2 linked regions of the Homo sapiens genome follow. The protein of the gene in region 2 binds, or shares a complex with, the protein of the main gene of each other region. Each region holds a gene or a part of one and is shown on either strand. Other genes may lie near its edges.

Region 1 (3,600 bases), on a different chromosome or scaffold from region 2:
CCATCTCTACAAAAAATACAAAAATTAGCCGGGTGCAGTGGCTCATGCCTGTAATCCTACCACTTTGGGAGGCCGTGGCAGGTGGATCACCTGGTCAGGAGTTCGAGACCAGCCTGGGCAACATGGCGAAACCTCGTCTCTACAAAAAATACAAAAATTCGCCGGACATGGTGGTGAGCACCTGTGATCCCAGCTACTCGAGAGGTTGAGGCAGGAGGATGGCTTGAGCATGGGAGTTTGAGGCTGGAGTAAGCTGTGATTGCACCACTGCACTCACTCCAGCCTGGGTGACAGAGCAAGACCCTGTCTCAAAACAAACAAAAAACCGATGACGACCAGGGGAAATGAGCTTAAGAATTGAGGAAAAGTGGCCTCTGGGACCTGGGACTAGACCATTGAGAAGGAATTAGTTTTTCGTGGCAACACCGTTCTCTCCTTAACCTAGCCAACAACCTATTTTCCAGAGCTCCGCCTGGCTGTTTGGTGTCGTCCAAGGATACACAAGAACAACGGTCACAGCGGGGTGCACCTGCAAAATGGGGCCAGCTAACGTGTTCTGGTCGCCTTTGGCATGATGTTGAAGCCGTCACTCCCATTTTAAGGGAACTGAGGCTCACAGGAATTACATCACAGAGCCCCAGTCAACTAACAGGTATAGATGAGCATACAGAAGCGTTCTCGGCTACAAGGAAGGCGGCCGAAACCATTTCAGCCGCGATCCCGATTCGACCCCAACGAATCTTGGTTGTTTCTTTTTTATTTTGTCAAACAGGGTCTTGCTCTGTTGTCCAGGCTGGAGTGCAACGGCACAATCACAACTCACTGCAGCCTCGACCTCCTGGACTCAAGCGATCTTCCCGCTTCAGCCTCCAGAGTAGCTGGGACTACAGGCGCGCGTCACCAACCACGCCCGGCTAATTTTTTTTTTTTTTTTTTTTGCAGTGATGGGGTCTCGCTATGTTGCCCAGGCTGGAGTGCAGTGGTGGGATCATGGCTCACTGCAGCCTCGACATTCCGAGCTCAAGCGATCCTCTCGAGTAGCTGGGCCTACAGGTACAACCACCACTCCTGGCTAATTTTTTAAAATTTTTTGTAGAGATGGGGGTCTCGGTGTGTTGTCCAGGCTGGTCTCGAACTCCTGGCCTCAAGCGATCCTCCCGCCAAGGCCTCCCTGAGCAGTGAGATTACAGGCGTGAGGCCCCGCGCGCGGCCTCCCAACAGGAGTTTGGAAATAGAGTTCCTGGCGGGCCCGACCCTCCAGGCCCGCCCAGCGCGGGGCCTCAGGATGCACAAGGCCGGACGCTCACGGGAGGAGGGAGGGGAGCGACGCCGCCGCCCCACCCTCGGCCCGCGGCCTGTCGCAAGCGCCTCTCTCCTACGTCCGCTGTCCCCCAGGGAACCCCCGGTCCGCGTCGGCCGCCGCCCTCAACCGCCTCTACTCCTCACCAGAGCCCAAGGCCGCGTTATCTCCTCCTCGTTTCGCCACCTCCACGACTTCGTTTGGCGAACGGCGGGCAAAGAAAGCACTTCCGGGGCAAATGAGACGGGCCCTCTGGTGTGCGCATGCCTGGCCCGCCCAGCGGCGTGAGTCAGAGGGTCCCGAGGCGCGAAGGAAAAGGCTGGAGGGGGAGAGGCTGAAAGCGCGGCCTGGAAGGCAAACTGCGCGTGCGCACAACGCTCTCAACGAACCCTCGGTCCGCTGCGGCCGCACGGGGCCAACTTTCGCGAGGGAGCGGCTGACACTCTCCGGGCGACGTTATCGCTCCCTCCGCCTGCGCCTGGCCGCTCTAGAAAGGGGTGCCAGCCATCGCTGGGGTGCCTTGATTCTGTTCCACCTTGGTCCGGTTTATTTCAGTTTAATGGTTATGTAACAACGGTCCGTCTCTCCTACCAACCGGTACCCCGCCCACGCCAGCAGCCACGGGTCGCCAGCGCCACGCAGCGGAGGCGGGCGGCATGGCTGGCCCAAGGTGCGCAGGCGCACTAGCCCTGGGGGTGCTTCCGTGTCTGCGCCCTGAGACATTTTTGGCGCCGGCCCCAGCCTGAGCGGGGACGGCGGCCGGGAGGGCGCGGCCCGGGTTCCCGTTCCCCGCGGAGCCATGCGGTACAACGAGAAGGAGCTGCAGGCTCTGTCCCGGCAGCCGGCCGAGATGGCGGCCGAGCTGGGCATGAGGGGCCCCAAGAAGGGCAGCGGTGAGCGGGACCCGGGAGACCGAGACAGTGCCAGGGGCGGGAGGCCGGGGCCGGGGTCTGGGCGGGGGTGCCGGAGGCCGGAGTCCGGGTCGGGGCGCCGGGGACGGGAGGCCGGGGTCCGGGCGGGGGCTGCCTGCGCCCCTGAGTGCGCGCTGTGCCCGCAGTGCTGAAGCGGCGGCTGGTGAAGCTGGTGGTGAATTTCCTCTTCTACTTTCGGACAGACGAGGCCGAGGTAGGGGCGTCCCGGGCGCGCGGGCGGGTCCCAGGCTGGGCCCCTCGGAGGCCGGGTGCTCACTGCCCCGTCCCGGCGCCCGTGTCTCCTCCAGCCCGTCGGAGCCCTGCTGCTGGAGCGCTGCAGAGTCGTCCGGGAAGAGCCCGGCACCTTCTCCATCAGTGAGTGGGGCTAGGGAAGCCAGCGGCGCTTCCCGCAGCCCGGGGCACCCGCAGCGCCGCACTTTCCCCTCCCCGGGCGCCCAAGGTCTCCTCTGTGTCCCCAGCCTGGCGCCACCCTCCTCAAACACAAGAGTGCATTGTCCACGGGCAGCTCAAGGTCAAGTTCTCCTGGCGGGCACCACCCTTCCCACCTGCCGAGTCCACTTAAGCTTGGGTCCCTCCCAGACTCTGCTCTTTGTTCCCTGTGGGCCCAGGCTGTACTTACAGGGCAGGTGGGCCAGCCCCACCCAAAGCGTTTCCCCAGCTGCCAAGAGTAGCATGGGTCTAGCATTGTTATATGGCCCCGGGCTGGAAATCCCAGGTGGGGGTAGGAGGAGTGAGAGGGGGGTGTTCTCCTGGGTCTTAAGAGATTCCCTTCTGCGGGGAAAGATGGAGTCCCTGCTAGTTTGCCCAGAGTGGCTGTCAAAATTCCACAGGCCAGGTGGCTTAAATATCAGAAACATTCTCTACAGTTCTGGAGGCCAGAAATCCTAGATGAAGGTGTGGGTGGGGCCGAATCCTTCTGAGGCCGAGGGGAATCTCCCAGTTCCTAGTGGTGGCCAGTATCCTCCAGGTTCCTTGGCTTGTGGAAGCGTCACCTTGTCCTCCTTGCATCACGTCTGTGCCCACATTTCCCCTTCTACACAGACGCCAAGCAGAATTTAGGGCCCACCCTGACAACCCCTTTTTACTTCACTTTATTATTTTATTTGCTTATTTTTTGAGACAGGGTCTTGGTATGTCGCCCAGGCTGGAGTGCAGTGGTGCAATCTCGGCTCCCTGTAACTTCCCCCTCTCGGGTTCAAGTGATTCTCCTGCCTCAGCCTCCCGAGTAGCTGGTACTACAGGCACGCGCCACCATGCCCAGCTAATTTTTGTATTTTTAGTAGAGACGGGGTTTCGCCATATTGGCCAGGCTGCTCTCGAACTCCTGACCTCAGGTGATCCTCCCACCTCGGCCTCCCAAAGTGCTGG
Region 2 (3,944 bases):
CAACCTGGGCATCTGGGCACCTGGGCGACAGGGCGAGACCCTGTCTCTAAAAAAAACAACAAAAATGCTATTCTAACATTACTCCACGGATTTAACTGAATTATAGCTGCTTTGTGAGATAATCTGTGGTGGTTTGCTTCCACTCCATCACAACTAAAATAGGAAAAAACAGTCATTGTAGAAAACGAGACACCACATGTCCATGTGGCTTAAGAAAATGTTTTCAAGGAATATGACATGTGAATGTCTGATTAATTAGGTAGAATTATACCAGACAACACCCCCTCCCCTAACACATACTCATTCCTCTCCTATTTTGGTAGCATAATATTTATTTCAGTGGTGATGGAGTCAAGACATTTGCAAGAATAGCTTTTGTGCAAGCTTTTAGCCCCAATGTCCCTCTAAGTTTATGTCAAAGAAGAGGCAAATAGATGCAGCAAATTGTGTGGAGGAAAGATAAAAGGAAAAGAGATTTTATATGGTTTATAATGGGAGACTACAATTCGGATATTCCCCTCACCACTCCTACCTAGTTCTAGTGCCCATTTTGACAACTCAGAGAATTACTCACTTTAAACATTTAGTTAAATTTCTTTATATTTCAGAAAGTTTAAGAACTGAAAATTACATTTGAAAATTGAGTTAACTTAAAATGTTTAGAATTTGTACAGCTATGACCTCTGATCTTCTCAGAGTCAACTTTTTTAAACTGACCTTTTAATTTATATGAAATTTTTATATAGAAACAACAATGCCAGTGACTTGAAAGTATTGCATTTTATAAAATTACTGAGTTCCCTGTAATTATTAATACTTAAAAGTTTTCATCTTTATGCATTTTTTTCTTCCATAAATTTTTGACTTATAATGTAACAGCTTGTTGACCCATTTGTTTTTTTCAGCCCTCATGATGTATTGGCTACACTTCTGAACAACCTCAAAGTTCAAGAAAGGCAGAACAGAGTTTGTACCACTGTAGCAATAGCTATTGTTGCAGAAACATGTTCACCCTTTACAGTACTCCCTGCCTTAATGAATGAATACAGAGTTCCTGAACTGAATGTTCAAAATGGAGTGTTAAAATCGCTTTCCTTCTTGTTTGAATATATTGGTGAAATGGGAAAAGACTACATTTATGCCGTAACACCGTTACTTGAAGATGCTTTAATGGATAGGTAAGTGACTTGAACTAAATACAAGAAAATAATTATAACTCTTCCTTCATTTTAGAACATCGTGAAATAGTTATTAGATGACTTTTTACTGTAACATAGTTAAAGAAAAAATTGCTAGCCTGGAGTCTTAGGACATTGTAAATATGACTTATTATTTTAAAATAATGTGCACGCTGTAGTGATTCCCCAGACTTTCTTTCAAGTTCTCCCATCCCCTTTAAATCTCTTTTCTTATCTATTGAATTAAATAAATTTTGAAAAGGGTTGATTGATAATCTTTTGTTTTCAAAATTGGTCAAATATAGTTAGAGGACATGATGAGCAGAAGCTAATGGGCAGAGACCTGATCTTTTTAGCTTTTTGTTGCAGGTAAAGGACAGGTTTCTCTTAAGCCTTTGAATTACTGAACAATAGCCTGCCAGAACTACACTCTTCCTGTTGCAGGTCCCTGGTGTTTCAGATGGTGACCACCAGTAGAGTACTGTTCAAGTTATTTGACAGATTGCTAATACCTTTTACCATCTAGACTGACGTACAGCCTTAAACACAGAAGTAACTGAAGAAAGTGCAAAGGAAAGTGCAAGCGTAGTAAGGGAAAGAACTGTTTCACTGGCTCTTTATTTTTCAGGAGAGATAAGTTACTCAAATCAGAGCCCATTCAAATACTTTTGTGTACAGATTTAAGTTATTCATTAATAACCTTCTGAAAGGGAGACTTAACTGGACTCGACAAGTTACCAGAACGTATATATGCAAGACATGGAGACAAAGTAAGAATTGTGCTCTGTAAAAGCCTGGCTGCCCAGGGCTAAAAAAAATGAGGGTAAATCACCCTTGCTCTGTATTCCTTAGTGAGAAGTGCCTGAGCACCATAGTGCAGTCATTAATGTATGTCACCTGCAGTTAAAAACTTTTTTCTGTGTACTAAGAAGTTAAGGGAGTAATTCCATTGAAAATTACTAAATGAAAAGAATACTTCAGTTGGAAATTTTATTAATGAGGAATACTGCTTCATTCTTATGCTGAATGACATTATTAAAATAAATAGGAAAAACAAGAATATTAGTAAATACAAGTATTTTTCTCTTTTCTCTTTGATATGGTCTGTGTTACTATCTTTGGAGCAAAGTGTGGAAACTCATTTTTTTTTTTGGACGGAGTTTTGCTGTGTCACCCAGTCTGGAGTGCAGTGGCATGATCTCGGCATACTGCAACCTCTGCCTCCCAGGTTCAAGTGATTCTTCTGCCTCAGCCTCCCAAGTAGCTGGGACTACAGGCGTGTGCCACCATGGCCGGCTAATTTTTTGTATTTTTGGCAAAGATAGGGTTTCACCGTGTTAGCCAGGATGGTCTCCATCTCCTGACCTCGTGATCTACCCGCCTTGGCATCCCAAAGTGCTGGGATTACAGGCGTGAGCCACCGTGCCCGGCCTGGAAACTCATTTTCATACCCATTGCAAATCCCATTGTGTTAGCCAGCGAGCTCATACTTGGTTGAATAATTGTGGAATGAATAACTCATTGATTTTTCATGAACATAAATTCAGTTAACATAGGAGATGATAGTTATTTCTGTAGGTTTGAAAAAATTATTGATCTTTTGTTCCTCTCCCCAAATTGAGTTATTGAATGAAACTTAAACTTTACGTGAGAAGGGAATTTAACTTTAATTTAGTTACCTATTATATACCAGTATCTGAAGTACTAGTAAAGATTTAAGTTTATAATCAAGAGTTTAAAATGATTTGGGAGGCCAAGGTGGGAGGATCGCTTGACCCCAGGAGCTCAAGACCAGCTTGGGCAACATAGCGAGGCCTTCCCTATCTCTAACAATAACAATAAAAAAGAAAAATAATTTTTCTTTTTTTTTTGAGACAGAGTTTCACTCTTGTTGCCTAGGCTGGAGTGCAGTGGCACAATCTCGACTCACTGCAACCTCCACCCCCCAGGTTCAAGTGATTCTCCTGCCTCAGCCTCCTGAGTAGCTGGGATTACAGGCGTGTGCCAAAATGCCCTACTAATTTTTGTATGTTTAGTAGAGACGGGGTTTCACCACGCTGGCCAGGCTGGTCTTGACCTCCTGACCTCAGGTGATCCATCTGCCTCGGCCTCCCAAAGCGCTAGGATTACAGACATGAGCCACCATGTCCGGCCTGAAAAATAATTTTAAAAAAGAGAAAAAAGTTTAAAATATTACTGTTTATTATTCATATGTTAGAACCACATGCCTCCTCTTTAGTAGCATAATAAAGCCAAGACTTCACAGAGCCCTCCTGCTCATATTCCTTTTAAAAGTTAATTAGATGGCCAGGCACGGTGGCTCACGCCTGTAATCCCTGTACTTTGGGAGGCTGAGGCGGGCAGATCACAAGGTCAAGAGATCGAGACCATCCTGGCCAACATGGTGAAACCCTGTCTCTACTAAAAATACAAAAATTAGGCAGGCGTGGTGGCACACACCTGTAATTCCAGCTACTCAGGAGGCTGAGGCAGGCGAATTGCTTGAACCTGGGAGGCAGAGGTTGCAGTGAGCCAAGATCACACCACTGCACTCCAGTCTGGGTGACAGAGTAAGACTCCGTCTCAAAAAAAAAAAAAAAGTTAATTAGAAAATATGGCTTAATTGTTGAGCCATAGTGAATCTTGAGTAATTAAAGCAAAAGTCCTCAAGTGGAAGCTATTCTAAAGGATATATTAGATATATGAAATGTTAGATGACTTCACATCTATTCAGTGCACTGAATTAGTAATTTAGTTTCTAATGGG

What was found.
Region 1: SF3B1 (region 2) and SF3A2 share a complex: the UniProt entries of both Homo sapiens proteins name them as parts of the 17S U2 SnRNP complex.

The regions. Positions count from the first base shown.
Region 1 is NC_000019.10:2,234,748-2,238,347, reverse strand, and holds the start of SF3A2 (splicing factor 3A subunit 2), read right to left. Parts: upstream 1,525-3,600; 5' UTR 1,447-1,524; intron 1-1,446. Other genes in the region: PLEKHJ1 (pleckstrin homology domain-containing family J member 1), read left to right, coding at 2,100-2,193, 2,358-2,425, 2,520-2,586. UniProt on the Homo sapiens protein: Component of the 17S U2 SnRNP complex of the spliceosome, a large ribonucleoprotein complex that removes introns from transcribed pre-mRNAs.
Region 2 is NC_000002.12:197,393,290-197,397,233, reverse strand, and holds part of SF3B1 (splicing factor 3B subunit 1), read left to right. Parts: intron 1-905; coding exon 906-1,178; intron 1,179-3,944. UniProt on the Homo sapiens protein: Component of the 17S U2 SnRNP complex of the spliceosome, a large ribonucleoprotein complex that removes introns from transcribed pre-mRNAs.